Linked DNA regions of Homo sapiens: region 2 is linked to region 1. Evidence: fine-mapped expression QTL. A gene starts in region 1. The other region holds a variant in brackets. All regions are shown on one strand. Distances are between the middles of the regions.

Evidence for each region.
Region 2: its variant is fine-mapped to the expression of FUOM in whole blood (INTERVAL, PIP above 0.99). The same link has a PIP of 0.9 or more in esophagus mucosa, lung, sun-exposed skin, tibial artery, unexposed skin and visceral fat.

Annotation. Positions count from the first base shown.
Region 1 is chr10:133,354,379-133,362,698 of GRCh38, forward strand. It overlaps FUOM (fucose mutarotase), which reads right to left and starts at 3,641. Exons shown (of 6, transcript NM_001098483.3): 1 at 3,545-3,641; 2 at 2,809-2,877; 3 at 2,565-2,635; 4 at 2,262-2,360; 5 at 1,360-1,433; 6 at 780-1,058. The coding sequence starts at 3,629. The coding sequence ends at 992. ECHS1 (enoyl-CoA hydratase, short chain 1) reads right to left here. Exons shown (of 8, transcript NM_004092.4): 8 at 8,107-8,320. RefSeq lists enhancers at 1,658-2,392, 2,870-2,969 and silencers at 3,120-3,739, 3,790-3,869, 4,902-5,064.
Region 2 is chr10:133,385,429-133,393,748 of GRCh38, forward strand. PAOX (polyamine oxidase) reads left to right here. Exons shown (of 7, transcript NM_152911.4): 5 at 3,528-3,640; 6 at 4,162-4,319; 7 at 5,884-6,266. The coding sequence ends at 6,027. Among named protein-coding and RNA genes, the nearest start is that of MTG1, 4.6 kb to the right of the region's middle. RefSeq lists silencers at 3,083-3,240, 3,497-3,791, 4,381-4,460 and an enhancer at 3,201-3,330. The variant C/T (reference allele first, on the strand shown) is at 3,945.

The sequences.
Region 1 (8,320 bases):
GCTTGCCTGCACCCCCAAGGTTCTCCTGCGGTCTGGAGTGGGGGTCTGGAACCCTGGGACTTGCCCCCTCGAGCCCCGGGGACACCAGCCCCAGGCCCTGGGGGAAGCCCCTGTCATCCCCACTCCTGCCCTTGGTCCCTCAAACTCCAGCCCTGCCCCATCTTCTTCCTGTACCTGTCACTGCAGCAAGTTCTGGGGAGCAAGACGAGGGTCCGGACAGTGGCTGGTGGTTATTCTTCCCCATCCTTGGGGACCAGTCCAAGCATCCCATGGGCAAGCCTCCCAGGCACCCCCTTTCAGGAACCCCCTGCATCCCACCTCTGCCTGGCACTGGACTCCAAATGACCTCGTGTCCTTTACCTCCCCTGCCTGCCAGGGCAAGTGAGGCTTTCAGCGGGAGGCCACCTATGCCACAGGCATAGGGCATGGCCCACACCGAGGCCTCTCCAGCCGACAGTTCCTCCCGAAGCGTCCAGGCCAGCCCCTGCCACCTGCCCTCCTGCGGGTGGAAGGAATGGACCCCGGTGAAGAACCCCCTTGGTGTCCACAGCCCAGGGGCTATGGCAGAAGTCCCCACCCCTCTCAAGGCCTCCAGGGCAGCCACTGCCCCCACTCCAGCCCTTGGTGTCCCCAGGGCACCAGGCACCCCGCCCAGTCCCCAGGGCCCCAGGCCTGATTTCCCACTCAAGGTTCGTCAAGGGTACGTGGGGGCCACTCTGGAGCCAGCAGCCTCCCTTGAGCTCAGCACCAAACAAGCCTGCGTGAGAACAGAGCTGGAATTGGACTCTTGAGACTGAACGTTTTTCCATCATTTTCACAAATCAGGGATACTCGTCCCAATTGGCAGGGCCCACCCCAAGACTGCCGGCCCCTAGAGCCCTGGCCAGGGCCCAGGTCTGGGAGCTGCCACTGGGAGGCCTGTTGTGAGTGGTGGTACTGGAGCTCAGGGTGCCCCCAGTTCCTCTTCCGGCCCAGGTGGTCTTCACCAGGCCTACAGCAGGGGGTTGAGGGCAAGCACCCCCTTCCTGAGGATGAGGTTTCCGTAGAGGGCCGTCTCCCTGCAGAGGAGCCAAGCCCAGCACTGAGCTGGGCTGCAGGGCCAGGGTGCCGAGACCCTGCTTCAGCATCTGGGGGACAGAGCAGACCCTGTCCACCTTCACCCACTTGATGCTCAGGCAAATGGGGGCCCTGCCCCCCCGAAATTCCTCCCTGGTCTCTCCACTCTGTGGGACGTCTAGCCTCAGCCAGGCAGAAGCTGAGAAGAGGGTAGGGGCAGCTCCTGAGGCCCCCCGGTGGGGATGGGGGCAGCTCCTGAGGCCCCAGTGGGGATGGGGCAGGTCTGAGCCAGCTGGAACTCACCCCGTTGCCACAACAGCAAAAGCCTTCTTAGCCCGTTCATAAAACTCAAACCTCTCTATCTTTGCCAGGGCTCTCTGGAAGACAAAATGGCAGGGTTGGAGGGAACCCTGCCAAGAAACCCTCATGGGCCAGCCCTGGACTCCCCAGGGCCCAAAGCAGGGAGGGCACCAGGAAGTGGGGTTCCATTTCTTGGGCTCTCCCCCGGCAAGGGCCCCACGGTCACTCAGCCTCTGGCTCCCAAGGCCTAGGACAGGGGGTCCCAGGACATGGTGGACGAGGAACCTGCCATGCTTGGGTCTCTGCCTGACCTGGGGCCACCCAGACAGCTCAGTAGACTGTCGAGCCCCTGCCAGCTGTCCTGGGGGGAGTCCCCTGCCCAGGACAAGAGCCCCTGGCCCCCCTTATGGAGGCCCTGCTCAAGACCTGCCAGTGGGTTGCCCAGGAAAATGGGCCTGTCCCCTTGCAGGGCAAGGTGTGGAGAGGGCTGAGTGAGACACAGCACCCAGCTAAGCCTCTGACCAACCATAGCCAGGATGGGGCGAGAGACCTGGGACCAGGGGGCACCCCTCCAGGGGAGATTGAGGAGGTGGAGGCCAGGCATCCTGAGTCCCCCAGGCTCCACTCACAGGCTGTGGTGGGTGACAACCCACCTGGCAGGTCAGGATCCTGGGCGGGGCAGGGCAGGTGGAAAGCTCGGGGGCAGAGGAAGAGGGGCCACACTGCCCAGGTGCACCTCTTCCACCTGGCTGGTGAAGGAGTGCCAGTGGTCCGGGGTTCTCAGGGTGATGGGTGGGAGACCACTTGAGGACAGAGCTTGGGACCCTCTGTCTTTGGCTCCTCCTGAGCCTCCAGGAGACAGAGGGTCCCTGGCCTTTTCCCCACAACTGGGGCTGCAGGCTTACCACACAGCCGGCCCTGCGTAGGATGGACTCGTACTCCGTCCACACTGGGGTCTGCAGGCCCCTCTCCTTGTCGCTGGGCACCAGCTCCATGACTGCAGCCTAGAGGGAGGGGTCAGCTCTGGGGCCCTGGGCACTGCCAGCCTTCCTGGTCAGGTGACCATTCGGGACTCCCCTGGTGAGGGTCAGGGCCCCTTTGGGGACACATGGCTTCCCCCCACTCCAAGGCAGGTGGGCCCTATGAAGCCCGCAAAAGGGGAAACTGAGGCACGGAGCAGCAGGGTGCAGGGGCGACTCAGCCCTCACCGGACTCTCCACATAGGTGTCCAGGGGCAGCAGCTTCAGCACGGCCTCCAGGAGCTGCGGGATGCCCAGGCCTGGAGGGCAGAGGAGGCAGCACTCAGTCTCCAGCCCGCCCGCCCGCCTGCCTGTCTGCACCCTTCACACTGCAAGCATGGACTTGGGGCCACGGCAGGCCACAGAGGAGCCTCAGAGCCAGGAGCACCGCTCACCCGCCCGCCCTGCCCTGGGGGACCTGGGGCTCGCTCACCGTCTGCACGGATCTCCATGGGCCCACACTGGCAGATGGAGGAGGCCGGGAAGTTCAAGTCCGCAAGAACTAAACAGCCGGGAGGACAGCCCGTGTCGGCACCTATCCCTGCCCTCGGGGTCGGCGCCGCCCGTCCTCCCACCCAGTCATGGCGGCAGATCGTGGGTCACAAGAGGTCTCAGGTCAGCCAGTTGGGCGCCCCCACCGCCGACCGGCCGCAGTCAGATCCGCAGGGCTGGAAGCCACGCGGGGAGGTGGGGAGGGCAAGGTCCCTGCCTGGGAGGCAGAGAGGCGTCAACAGCTGCCCGCGAGGCTGTCGGGTGCTGACCAGGCCAGGGGGCCGACCCGGACCCGGCCGCCTCCCCAGGGGCCAGAGGACGCGCGGCTGCCCGCGATGCCCGGACCAGGCCCCCGGCCACCCAACCCCTGCCCCGGGACCCCAGGCCCCAGGAGAAGAAAAAGCGCCGAACCCTCGGGGGCAGCCCAGACGCGAGGGCTCTCGGGCCGTCTGGGGAGGGACTCCGGGAGAAGCTCGGGCCGGCTCCGCCCAGAGCCCCACGAGGTCTCAGTTCCCTAAAGAATGCGGGGGAGGGGGCTTCCTGCCCGGAAGCCAGGGAGGCCCGAGCAACGCCCACACCCCAGGACGCGGCCCTTCCCGGCCCGGGGGTCCCCGTGCAAGCCTCGCCCTCCTGCCTGTCCCGGGGTGCTCCCCGAGGCCCCGGCCCGCTGCGCTCACCGATCTCGTCCCCGTGCCCCATCCGCGCCAGCGCGTAGAGCAGCTCGGGGGACAGCAGTGCGGGGACACCCTTCAGCGCCACCATGGCCCGGCAGACGGGGCGGGCGGGGCCTAGGGGCGGGGCTTGGGGGCCGGGGCGGGGCCTTACGGGGAGGGCGGGGCTTGGGGGCAGAGGCGGGGGCCTTACGGGGAGGGCGGGGCTTAGGGGCAGAGGCGGGGCTTTACGGGGAGGGCGGGGCTTTATTGGAGGGCGGGGCTTTAGGGTCCCGGGCTTGGGGCTTGGGGACGGGCCGGGCCTAGGGTTCGGCGGGCTGGGGTCCGCTTGCGGCTCAAGGAAGGGCGGGGAGCCCCAGGAACTGGGGACGTGCGGGCTGAGTCGTGGCGTGGGGGCAACACCCAGCCAGCCCACGGGCTCCTCGCCAGGTCCGAGACTCGGGTGCCCTTGCGCTGTGGCCGGGGGCTCCCCAGTGTCCCTACCCGAGCCTCCCACCCCGAGCTCCCTCAGGCCGAAGGGGTTCAACCGCCGCGGCCTCCCCTCATGAGGGTCTCTGCCCTCTGACCACTTCGTGCTGCCCTTAGGCCTGGCAGAATGCCCGGAGCGCACCGGGTCCCTGGGGTCACCATGGTGGGTAGCTGGACCCAGGCCTTCAGCCCACGCTCCTGAGGGACCGGGAGCAAGGGACACGGGAGCCAGGACTTCGGACCCCCTTGGGGGGAGTCCAGGAGGGCAGCCAGGCCCAGCTTCCAGGCTCAGCTGCGAAGTGCCAGGACACCTAAGGGTCCTCCATCATCCCCCGGTGTCAGCGGCCTGCAACCCCCTGCCCAGGATGGCGGCATCCTGACCTTTGGCTGAGCTCAGGCTGGCCAGGCCCTCCCTCCGCGGAACCACCTTCTTCCACATGATTCCCAGCTGGACACCAGCTGTGGGGCTAGCACTGCGGCCCTGGCCCTCAGCCCTGAGGTGACACAAATGCTCTGAGGCCTGGCGGCTCCTAAAAAGTTCTGAAAATCAATCTGTATGTGAAAAATGACAAAGCCGCGTCAGAAAACCAGGAGGAAACAGACGTCTCCATGTTGAACTGCTTGGCCCTAGGAGCCTGTCCCCATGGGAAGTGGCCTGGGCTGCGTCGGAAAAGCCTGGTGGGGCCACCCAGGCTGGCACCCAGCAGCACCTGAACAGCTGGCCCTGGGCCGGCCACTCGGGCAGAGAGAAGACCGGGGCTGCCCAGGGCCTGCCAATGAGGGGTGGCTTTGCACCGAGGCCACCGGGTTTCAGAGCTGTACCTGGGCAGTTTCTACTCCAACTTGTAAGTGGAGAGTCACCGTTTACCCAAATATACAAGGGCAAGAGGATTTTATAGAGATGGGCAAGAAAGTTTTCAGCTTCAAAACCAAATCAGGCCGGGCGCGGTGGCTCACACCTGTGATCCCAGCACTTTGGGAGGCCGAGGCGGGCGGATCACTTGAGGTCAGGGGTTGGAGACCAGCCTGGCCAACATGGTGAAACCCCGTCTCTTCAAAATATACAAAAATTAGCCAGGCATGGTGACTGGTGCCTGTAATCCCAGCTACTTGGGAGGCTGAGGCACGAGAATTGCTTGAACCCGGGAAGCGGAGGGTGCAGTGAGCCGAGATCACTCCACTGCTCTCCAGCCTGGGTGACAGAAAGTGACTCCGTCTCAAAAAAAAAAACAAAACCAACAAAGAAAAAACACCTAATCAAACCCCAAACAATAATGGGGCCAGAGGTCAACTAGCTCAGGAGTGAGTGGAAGCCTCACTCTGAGTCTGGGGTTCCCCTGCCCCGGACAGTGGCACCCCTCCCTCCAGGCTCCCTGGGGCCAGCATGAAGACAAAGTCCATTCCCCAGCCTAAGGGTTGGGTGTCTGTCCCTGCCAAGCTCTGGAACCAGATAACTAGACGCAGCCCTCTGAGATGCGGCTTCCATGCTGGGCCCTTTCTTGGCTTCCAGCCAAGTGTGGCTGACACAGGTATGAACGTGAGGCTGCAGCCAGCCCTACGGATCTCTGAGGTTCCATTGCTTGAAATCAGATTATGGAGGCTGACCCCAGTGCACATGAAAAATTAAACGGAGTGGATTTTCTCAATGTTCAGGCTTCCTCCCTTGCATACTTGAACATTTGGTGCCTATCTATCTCTGCATATTTACTCCAGGCTCCAGGGCCAGTGGTTCATGACCCACGCAGACTCCACGTGCTCCACTCCAGTAAGTGAGCAGGTTCCAGATTCCCTACCCCAAGGGAAGAGCCTGTTATGCCCTGTTGGACCTGAATCAAACTCCCTTTGTACCTGTTTCAGTATTTGTCAAACAGTCCCAGATCCCAAGGCTTATCTGAGGCTTATCTGAAAAGAACATCTCCCGCCTGTTTTAAGGCCAACTGCATGAGAACTCCCACCTGCCCTGGCAGAAGCGAGATAAACCTGCTCCACCCTGAAGCCGGCTCTGAACTAGTGGACTCCAATCACAGCACACAGGAGGACAGACGGGGTGGGTGGGAGTGCAGAGCCAATGCCTCCGAGGCAAGCGGTCGCAGAGCATGCGTGTGTCCCCTTTGCGTGTACATGTAACCGGACACACGGGCGTGGCACCTGCAGCGTTCAGGGAACCAGAGCTCGGCAAAGATCACTGTTCTTCTTTCTTGATGCAGGTGAACCTGTCCTTGGTATTCAGCCCAAGTCCTCAGCGGTGGGGGCTCACACACTCTGCCCACCCAACCCAAGGCCATGACCACAATCTAGACCACCTACGCACACTGAGCTGCGGGGCCAAGTGGAGGAGACACCGGCAAACGCTCTCTGGCGTCTGCACTGAGCTGGGGGCAGGTGGGCTTCCCTGGGGGAAATACCTAGAACCAAGGGCATGATGACATGTCCATAGTATGAAACGTCAGGGCCACTAAAAAGAATGTTATAGGACTGTCATTTAGTGAGAAAATCAAATGGTGAAACATGCCACAACAGGCACAAACCTTCTGGACAGTATGTGCCTTAGCTTGGGCTGCTGTGATGCAGTGGCATGGTCTGGGTGGCTGATAAACACTGACTTTCCACAGTTCTGGAGGCCAAGGCTCCAGGCAGGTTCGGTGTGTGATGAGGCCCACCCTGGTTTACAGACAGCACCTTCCCACAGAGCACTCACATTGTGGGAGGGGTGAAAGAGTGCCCTCAGGGCTCTCCTAAGGGCAGTAATCCCACTGGAGGAGCTCCGCCCCCTCATAGGGCACTAATCCCACTGGAGGAGCTCCGCCCTCTCATAGGGCACTAATCCCACTCAAAGAGCTCCATCTTCTCATAGGGCAGTAATCCCACTGGAGGAGCTCCGCCCTCTCATAGGGCACTAATCTCACTGGAAGAGCTCCATCCTCTCATAGGGCACTAATCCCACTGGAAGAGCTCTGCCTTCTCTTAGGGCATTAATCCCACTGAAGGAGCTCCGCCCTCTCATAGGGCACTAATCCCACTCAAAGAGCTCCGCCCTCTCACAGGGCACTAATCCCAAAGAGCTCTGCCCCCTCATAGGGCACTAATCCCACTTGAAGAGCTCTGCCCTCATAGGGCACTAATCCCACTGGAGGAGCTCCGCCCCCTCATAGGGCACTAATCCCACTGGAGGAGCTCCACCCTCTCTCTCCTAGGACACTAAACCCACTCGAAGAGCTCTGCCCTTGTGACTAGTCATTGCCCAAAGTCCCCCCTCCTAATGCAGTCACGGTAGGGGTTAGGATTTCAACCCAGGGATTTGGGGTGGGGCTGAGTGAAATGAGCCTGACCCAAAGGGATAAATGGAGGTCCCTCCATAGAGACAGGAAGTAGAAGCGTGGGTGCCAGGAGCTGGAGGGAAGCAGAAAAGGGGTTGTTGTTTAACGGGGACAGTTTCCGTTTGGGAAAATGAAAGCTTTCTTGGATAGTCATGGCTGCACAACGAGAACGTACTTAATGCCGCTGAAATGTGCATTTGAAATGGTTCAGACCAGCCTGGGCAACACGGGGAAACCCCGTCTCTACAAAAGGTAAATTTAAACAGTCAGCTGGGTGTGGGAGTGCGCCCCTGTGGTCCCAGCTACTTGGGAGGGGGGGAGGATCACTTGAGCCCAGGAGATTCAAGCTGCAGTGAGCTGTGACTGAGCCACGCACTCCAGCCCGTCTCTAAAACACAGTGGTTAAGATGATCAAGTTGACGTCGTGTGTTCCCACAGTAGAGAAGAATGCAGTAAACTGAACAGAGAGCTCCTTATGACAGAAGTAGGAAGAAAATAGGGTGGGCTCTCGTGAGGAAAGGGCTCGACGTGAGTGGGCGTGGAAGAAAACCATAGACCATGCCTGTGCCCGTGTGCAGGGGTGTGTGGGTGCGTGCACAGAACTCTAGGAAGTCACAAGCCCAGCTGTTCACAGTGGCTACCCTGGAAGTATGATGTGAGGCAACTGACTATACAAACTTGTTTTGTTTGAATGTTGTTCCTTACAGTGAAAAAACAAAAAAGTTTAAAAAAACAACTAACATGACAGAATGCTCATTGCAGACATGACTACAAGGCGTGGTGTAATCTGAATCGCTATCACTTTAATCAGCATCTGTATGAAGGCAGCAGACAGCGTTTCCCTCAGAGCAGCCCCATTCTTCAGCGGCAGGGACACAAGGACCCGCAGGCCCCGCTTTCCGTCCGAGCACAGCATGCCCAGAGGGACCAGCGGGGGCTCCTCAGCAGAATCTTAGATTTAGAAGGTGCTCCAGTCAGGACCCTCACAGGCTGGGTG
Region 2 (8,320 bases), 31 kb after region 1:
AGGACATCAGTGGGACCCTGAGTGCTTTGGTGGGACCCTGTCTGTGGCACGGGGTGGTAGCTGTCCCATCCTTTTATATACCTGCAAAGGGTTGGGGATCTCAAAGAGCTTTTGTTTATGTGAGTCACATCTGTAAATTTACCCCATGATAAATAAAATATTTTTTTGTTTTTGAGATGGAGTCTCGCTCTGTCCCCCAGACTGGAGTGCAGTGGTGCAATCTTGGCTCACTGCAAGCCCCACCTCCTGGGTTCACGCCATTCTCCTGCCTCAGCCTCCTGAGTAGCTGGAACTACAGGCACCCACCACCACGCCCGGCTAATTGTTTGTATTTTTAGTAGAGACAGGGTTTCACCGTGTTAGCCAGGATGGTCTCGATCTCCTGACCTCGTGATCCGCCCGCCTCGGCCTCCCAAAGTGCTGGGATTACAGGCATGAGCCACCGCACCCAGTCACCACATGATAAATTAAATTATTATTTGAGATGATAGTAACAAACCTATTCTATGTTAGCATAAATAACATTTTTAAATGAATATTTTCTTAAAATTTAATGAAGGGTGGCAGCAGTTTTGTCTTTTCTGCAAAACTTTTTTTTTTTTTTTTTGAGACAAGGTCTCTCTGTCACCCAGGCTGGAATGCATGGAATGCAGTGGCGTGATCTCAGCTCACTGCAACCTCTGCCTCTTGGGTTCAAGCGATTTTCCTGCCTCAGCCTCCCGAGTAGCTGGGATTATAGGTGTGTGCCACCATGCCCAGCTAATTTTTGTAGTTTTAGTAGAGACAGGGTTTTGCCATGTTGGCCAGGCTGGTCTCGAACTCCTGGCCTCAAGTGATCCGCCCACCTTGGCCTCCCAAAGTGCTGGGATTACAGGTGTGAGCCACCACGCCCGGCCTTTTCTGCAAAACTCTTCAGTGTTACACTTAATAGAAGACATCTGGGTTCTCAGGCCTCCTCTGCATTCATTCTGTGGTGATGTTTTATTTTGGTTGAAACATAGGAAGAAAATGTGGATCTACATGGATATGTGGTTGGAAGAAGGAGTGATATTTGTTTATTTATGAGATGGAGTTTTGCTTTTGTCGCCCAGGCTGGAGTGTAATAGCTCGATCTCGGTTCACTGCAACCTCCGCCTCCCGGGTTCAAGCAATTCTCCTGCCTCAGCCTCCTGAGTAGCTGGGATTACAGGTGCCCACCACCACACCCGGCTAATTTAGTATTTTTAGCAGAGATGGGGTTTCTCCATGTTGGTCAGGCTGGTCTCGAACTCCTGACCTCAAGTGATCTGCCCACCTTGGCCTCCCAAAGTATTGGGATTACAGGCGTGAGCTACTGCGCCCGGCCAAAGGAGTGATATTTAAATAGCTTTTGAAATGATTGTGGGTATTCTTTGATACTACCTCAAAAGTCAAGATGTAGTAGTAATTCCTTAAAGGTTGGCCAAATATGAAATTGGAGAGCACACCAGTGAATTTTTTGTCTTCTGTGACACTGAAATCTATTTGTCTGTCTTGCACTTTAAATGGATCTTTTATCTATCCATGGCTTTAGTCATTGGAAAATACTAGGCTGGGCTTGGTGGCTCATGCCGGTAATTCCAGCACTTTGGGAGGCCAAGGTGTGCAGATGGCTTGAACTCAGGAGTTCGAGACCAGCCTGGGCAACATAGCAAGACCCAGTCTCTACCAAAAATACAAAAAGCTAGCCAGATGTGGTGGTGCGTGCCTGTGGTCCCAGCTACTGGGAGGCTGAGGTGGGAGGATTGCTTGAGCCCAGGAGGCGGAGGTTGCAGTGAGCTGTGATCAAGCCACTGAACTCCAGCCTGGGCAACAGAGGGAGGCCATGTCTTAAAAAAATAAAATATATATATATTGGTTCATGTAGTCTTCCAAATGTTGATACATTTCATTATACAATATAAAAAATCAAATTTATTAACATACCACTGATCTCAGAAAAGTCTTTCAGGATTGGGAAGCTGTTATGCTGTTGGTGGCAGAAACAAGCTTTTCTAAAATTGCAGTTTTTGCTTGAGAGCTTAAACTTTGTCATTGTCTATAAATACTATTTGTTAGTTGTTTTCCTGTGATAGAGACACTTTGCTCATTTTCAAGAAAATGTCACCAAATACCACACCATGATTTGTCTGACTGGTGCTCTCCTGAGTTCTGAGCCTGTCTGTGAAAGACGCACCAGCCCCGCCTGGAATAGCGTGTGCTAGGTGAGTCCTCCACGGCCACCGTGCACCACGCGCAGCAGGAGTGTTCTATGCGGATCCCGCTTCTCCACGCAGATTATTATTATTTTTTGAGATGGAGTCTTACTCTGTCGCCCAGGCTGGAGAGCAGTGGCGCGATCTTGGCTCACCGCAACCTCCACCTCCCGGGTTCATGCCATTCTCCTGCCTCAACCTGCCGAGTAGCTGGGACTACAGGTGCCCGCCACCACGCCTGGCTAATTTTTGTATTTTTATTAGACAGGGCTTTACCATATTGACCAGGCTGGTCTCGAACTCCTGACCTCGTGATCCGCCCGCCTTGGCCTCCCAAAGTGCTGGGATTACAGGCCTGAGCCACTGTGCCTGGCCCTCCACGCAGATTATTAAAAAGACATGAACTCGAGGATCAAGATTTAATAAAATTAGTAACTTTTACTGCCTTTGATCAAGGACATTCTCAAGTGAAAGCAGCATTTTTATTTATTTTTTAATATATATATTTTAATTTTTATATTCAGAGGCAGGGATATACGTGCAGGTTTGTTATGTAGCTAACCGTGTATCATGGGGGCTTGTTGTACAGATTAGTTCTATCACCCAGGAATTAAACCTAGTACCCATTAGTTATTTTTCCTGCTCCTCTCCCTCCTCCCATCCTCCACTCTCCCATAGGCCCCAGTGTGTGTTCTCATCATTTAGCTCCCACTTGAAAGGGAAAACATGTGCTGTCTGCTTTTCTGTTCCTGTGTTAGTTTGCTAAGGATAATGGCCTCCAGCTCCATCCATGTCCCTGCAAAGGACATGATCTCGTTCTTTGACGGCTGCAAAAAGCAGCATTTTGTAACCCTCATGTGCAGTGGTGGGAACGCCTGTAGGCGCATGTGGATCCTGTTGCTGCCTGATTCTGCTAAGGGACGGTTTACCTGCCCTGGCTCTTGCTCAGGTGCAAATGTCGGCGTGGTGGAAACAGCAAATGCTGTCTTAGCGTCTGAAGATGGCTGTGACCTTGAGGGTCCCTGGCAGGGCCTTCGGACCCCCAGGACTTTGCCGCCCACACTCTGCGAACTGCTGCCTGAGGGACGCTCTGTGGGGTGGCTCTTTGTGCCTCTGGGGCCCCTGCTCCATCAGTGGTTCCTTGCTGAGAAACGCGGGCGGAGAGCTGGGCTGGACACTGTCATCCCGGGGCTCTCTTTCTCCATGCAGGTCTGGTCATCCCAGGGCTCTCTTTCTCCATGCAGGTCTGGTCATCCCAGGGCTCTCTTTCTCCATGCAGGTCTGGTCATCCCAGGGCTCTCTTTCTCCATGCAGGTCTGTCCACGTTCTCTGTGGGTTCATTGCCGGACTTGAGTCTGAGTTCATGGAGACTCTGTCGGATGAAGAAGTACTTCTGTGTCTCACCCAAGTGCTCCGGAGAGTGACAGGTAGGTACTCACCACACACGCTGGTTCCTGCCTCTGCTCGTTACTGGTTGATCTCTAAACAGAAACTAGACTTTGCAGAACAGAGAAAAACTAAATTTGGCTGACTCTGTACATCTCCAGGGACCATCCTTCCTCATGTTAGTGGGGTCAGTAACAGTTCTTACCTCCGAGGAACTGAAATGACTTTGCAAACACTTCCTACTTCTGCCACCAAAATAAATGCCGTTGTCCTTGATCAGATTTTTACAGAGGAGGAACCCAAGGCTCGGAAACAGTAGCTGCTGCTGTCACAGCTCCCGGGTCC[C/T]GGCCCGCTGCTGTCGGGTCAGAGGCCCCCGGGTCCCAGCCCACTGCTCTCGGGTCAGAGGCGGCAGGAAGAGCCTCTCCTGACACACTCTGCTGCTCACTTTTCTTCCTGCATAGCATCTTTCACGTTAAACTGCTCAATCTTTAAAAATGACAAAAACAGTTGCAGACCTGTGGGTGAGAGTTCTCGGTTAACATGCAGTGTCTCTGTGGCTCAGGAAACCCACGGCTCCCCGCGCCCAAGAGCGTCCTGCGGTCTCGCTGGCACAGCGCCCCGTACACTAGGGGGTCCTACAGCTACGTGGCCGTGGGCAGTACTGGGGGCGACCTGGACCTGCTGGCTCAGCCCCTCCCTGCAGACGGCGCCGGCGCCCAGGTATGTGGCGTGCCCCAGTCGGGGGGCGTGGGTCCCGCTGCAGAGGCCCCCGCCGAGTCTGGGCGCTGCAGGAGCACCAGCCAGTGGCGGGTGGGCTGGGATCCCAGACTCGGAAGCCATTTTCTTTTTGAAACTAAGAATAATTTTTAAATGTACTGTTTTTGTGAGAATTATACACACACAGCTTAAAAAGTCAGAGAATTCTGCAGTGCTAACAAAAGAAAATAAAACCAAAATGGCAGGTGGAGCCCCTTTTGCCCTTCTCAGACGGTGCTCCCAGCTGATTCTCATCGCTAAGTTTACTGCATCTCTAAAAACATGTTTCTGCTACCACGTTTTGAGATACATTTCCTGTGCAAAATGTCAAACATACTAAAGTAGGGAGAACCTTTCAGTGCCCACCAGGCTTCCCCTAAGCCAAGCTTCTCCCCGCCCACCCCCGCCCTTTTTTATTAAGCATGACTCACACAGGACATTGTCTCACCTCAGGATATTTTGGTGCCTGTTTCTAAAAGATAAAGACATCCTTGTAAAATACTTAACTATGATGCTGAGGGCAGTGGCTCACACCTGTAATCCTAGTGCTTTGGGAGGCCTAGGCAGGAGGTTTGCTGAGGCCAAGAGTTCGAGACCAGCCTGGGCAACATAGTGAGAGTCGGTCTCCACACACACACACACACACACACACACACACACACAAGTAGCCAGGCATGGTAGCATGCACCTGTAGTCCCAGCTGCTCAGGCTTGGGCCCAGGAAGTTGAGGCTGGAGTAAGCTATGACTGCACCACTGGACTCCAGCCTGGGTGTCAGAGCAAGACTCTGTCTCAGAAAACATAAAAATAAAACCATATAACTATGATACCATTTACCCACTTAAAAATTAATAATCATTCCTCAATATGATCCAATATTTAGTCACTGTTCAGTTTTCCAATCAGCTCATGGTCTCTCTTCAGTGAACCTGCTTGGAAATGTTGCTTCTTGAGTTTTCAGTTTCAGGTGTTACTAATTGACTTCTCATTACATCAGATAAGGCTGTAGCTTTCTTCCTCTGCCCACCCGACTCCCAGATCCCTCCCCCACCCTCCCCATATGTGATCCAGGAGTTGAGGCCAGATCACTATTCAGTGTTTACACCCCTTGTTTTCTCTAAAAGCTGTTCACACCTGAGCTGCGGGGTGCAGTGGCTTCCTTTCCCACCCATTGGTGGATGCGTGTGAGCCGTCTTCCCACCCGTTGGTGGATGCGTGTGAGCCGTTTTCCCGCCCGTTGGTGGATGCGTGTGAGCCGTTTTCCCGCCCGTTGGTGGATGCGTGTGAGCCGTTTTCCTGGCTGTTGATGGATACATGTGAGCTGTTTTCCTGCCCGTTGGTGGATGTGTGTGAGCTGTTTTCCTGGCTATTGGTGGGTACACGTGAGCCCTTTTCTCGTCCGTTGGTGGAGGTGTGTGAGCTGTTTTCCTGCTTCTTGGTGGATGCTTGTGAGCCATTTTCTGTGTTTCCTTGCCCAGACCCTGCTGTCTGAATTGCATCCCCATTCTAACCCTGGCTCTTCTTTGCAGCTCCAGATCCTGTTTGCGGGGGAAGCCACACATCGCACGTTTTACTCCACGACGCACGGGGCTCTGCTGTCGGGATGGAGGGAGGCCGACCGCCTCCTCAGTCTGTGGGCCCCGCAGGTGCAGCAGCCCAGGCCCAGGCTCTAGCTGGGCCCAGCCTACTCTGTTCCACCCGTGTCGGGGGTAGGCTGGGACCCTCATTTCTTCTGACAGATTTCAGTCTGGCTTGAAATTTGGGGATGTTAATGAGGGTCCTCTGGTTTTTGGTAACCAGGGCCACCTTCTCAGTTCTTGTGTCTGTTATTGGAGTCTGGCCAGGGTTGACTTGAGCTGAGACACCAGATGCTCACGGAGATGCTGGACACATAAAGCAAGTTACAGCCACAGCTCCCAGAGCCATCTTTCCTGCCTTGAGGCTGTCCTGTCCTTCCTGCCTTGGGGCTCCAGCATCTGCTGCTGTTGTCTTTGTCTTGCTCCGGGCCCAGGTTGCACAGGGCCCTGTGTCTCCAATCCCCACAACCACACATGGCCCCACACTCTGGGTTCCCTGAACTCTGGGTCCTGTAGTTGCTTCTCGTGCCCCTGCATTCTCGTGGCTGCTGCCTGGGATGACAGCATAGCTGACAACCCTCCTCTTGCTCATCAACTGATGCTGCATCAGGCGCCCACTTCACAGGTTCGCAGGGCACTGGGGAGATGAGGGGTGCCCTGCCCTGCCCTGAGGCCGGGGGTTTTCTGGAGGAAGTGAATACATAATAAGGCCTGAAAAGAGAAACGGTGCCCAGCCCATGGGAGCCAGGGAGTGTGTGGGGCGTGGGCAGTGCTGGGGTGAGTGTGCTGGGTGCTGGGGGGTGTTGGGGTGGGGGCAGTGCTGGGGTGCTGGGGGGTGTTGGGGTGTGGGTAGTGTTGGGTGCTGGGGGGTGTTGGGGTGAGTGTGCTGGGTGCCGGGGGATGTTGGGGTGTGGGCAGTGCTGGGGTACCACGTGGTATTGGGGTGAATGTGCTGGGAGTCCAGGCCCCTCTCCGGCCCCTCCACCCCAGCCTGGATCTGCAGGGCTCCTCTCTTCTCACCCTCTGGTCTCTGTTCAAATTGCCCCTCCTAGGATGTTCCCTGACCCCACCCTCCCGAGCCCCAGCCTCCCTCTGTAGCCAGCAGCCCCACCTGCATTTGCTGTGTCACCAGACTGTTCTCTCTGGGGACACCTGCCCATCAGACGCCTGGGAGAGAAATTCAGATTCCACAGGGTTTTATTGTGGTTTTGTGCTCCTAGGACCATGAGGGAATGCAGCTTCCTTAAAGTACAAAAATCTTTATCATTGACATTTAGGGTTTCATCAATTCTGTATCCCAGGGAGAAAGGCAGCAAGACCCAGGCTGCCCCCTCTGGGTGTGAGGGACCGGCTTGGTGAGGAGGGGGCTTGGGGGCATTGACCTAGCAGGAGGCCCTGACTGCCCCCACTCAGCCCAGAAACCACCTGGGAGGCTTCTGTCTTCCACGGAGGGGCCACTCTCTCATGCCCAAAAATATTTACAGCTAGGCGTTAGGGTATTAGGTGGTTTAAGAACATCAGAACCATGGCAATATTTTTGTACTTAGAATTTGAGCATGTTTGGTATTTTCAGTAGCTTGTTTAAAAAATTCCAGTAGAGGCTGGGTGCCATGGCTCATGCCTGTAATTCCAGCACTTTGGGAGGCTGAGGTGGGCAGATCACCTGAGGTCAGAGTTCGAGACTAGCCTGGCCAACATGGTGAAACCCCATCTCTACTAAAAATACAAAAAAAGTAGCCGGGCGTGGTGGTGCGCACCTGTAGTCCCAGCTACTCAGGAGGCTAAGGCAGGAGAACTGCTTGAACCCCGGGAGGCGGAGGTTGCAGTGAGCCAAGATCACGCCACTGCACTCCAGCCTGGCGACAGAGCGAGACTCCGTCTCAAAAATAAAAATTCCGGTAGAGTAATACTCTTGTAACGCAGTGTGCAATTGAGCAGTTGCTGACTGCTGATTTAGAGTTGAAATCCGACTATATTTATGTCTAGTCTTGGACAGTGGAGAATATTTCAGCCTCATTAATTAATCGGTTTAATTTAGCAGAACTGCAGTCAGTATTTGGAAACAGTTTGTTATATTAAACCCTGAAGTACTTGAGGCTGCGCGCGGTGGCTCATGCCTGTAATCCCAGCATTTTGGGAGGCCGAGACAGGTAGATCACTTGAGGTCAGGAGTTGGAGACCAGCCTGGCCAACATGGTGGAACTCCATCTCTACTAAAAATACAAAATCAGCCGGCGTGGTGGCAGGCGCCAGTAATCCCAGCTACTCCGGAGGCTGAGGTGGGAGAATCCCTTGAACTCAGGAGTTGGAGGTTGCAATGAGCGAGATCGTGCCACTGCACTCTTGGGCAACAGAGCGGAGACTCCGTCTCAAACAAAACAAAACAAAC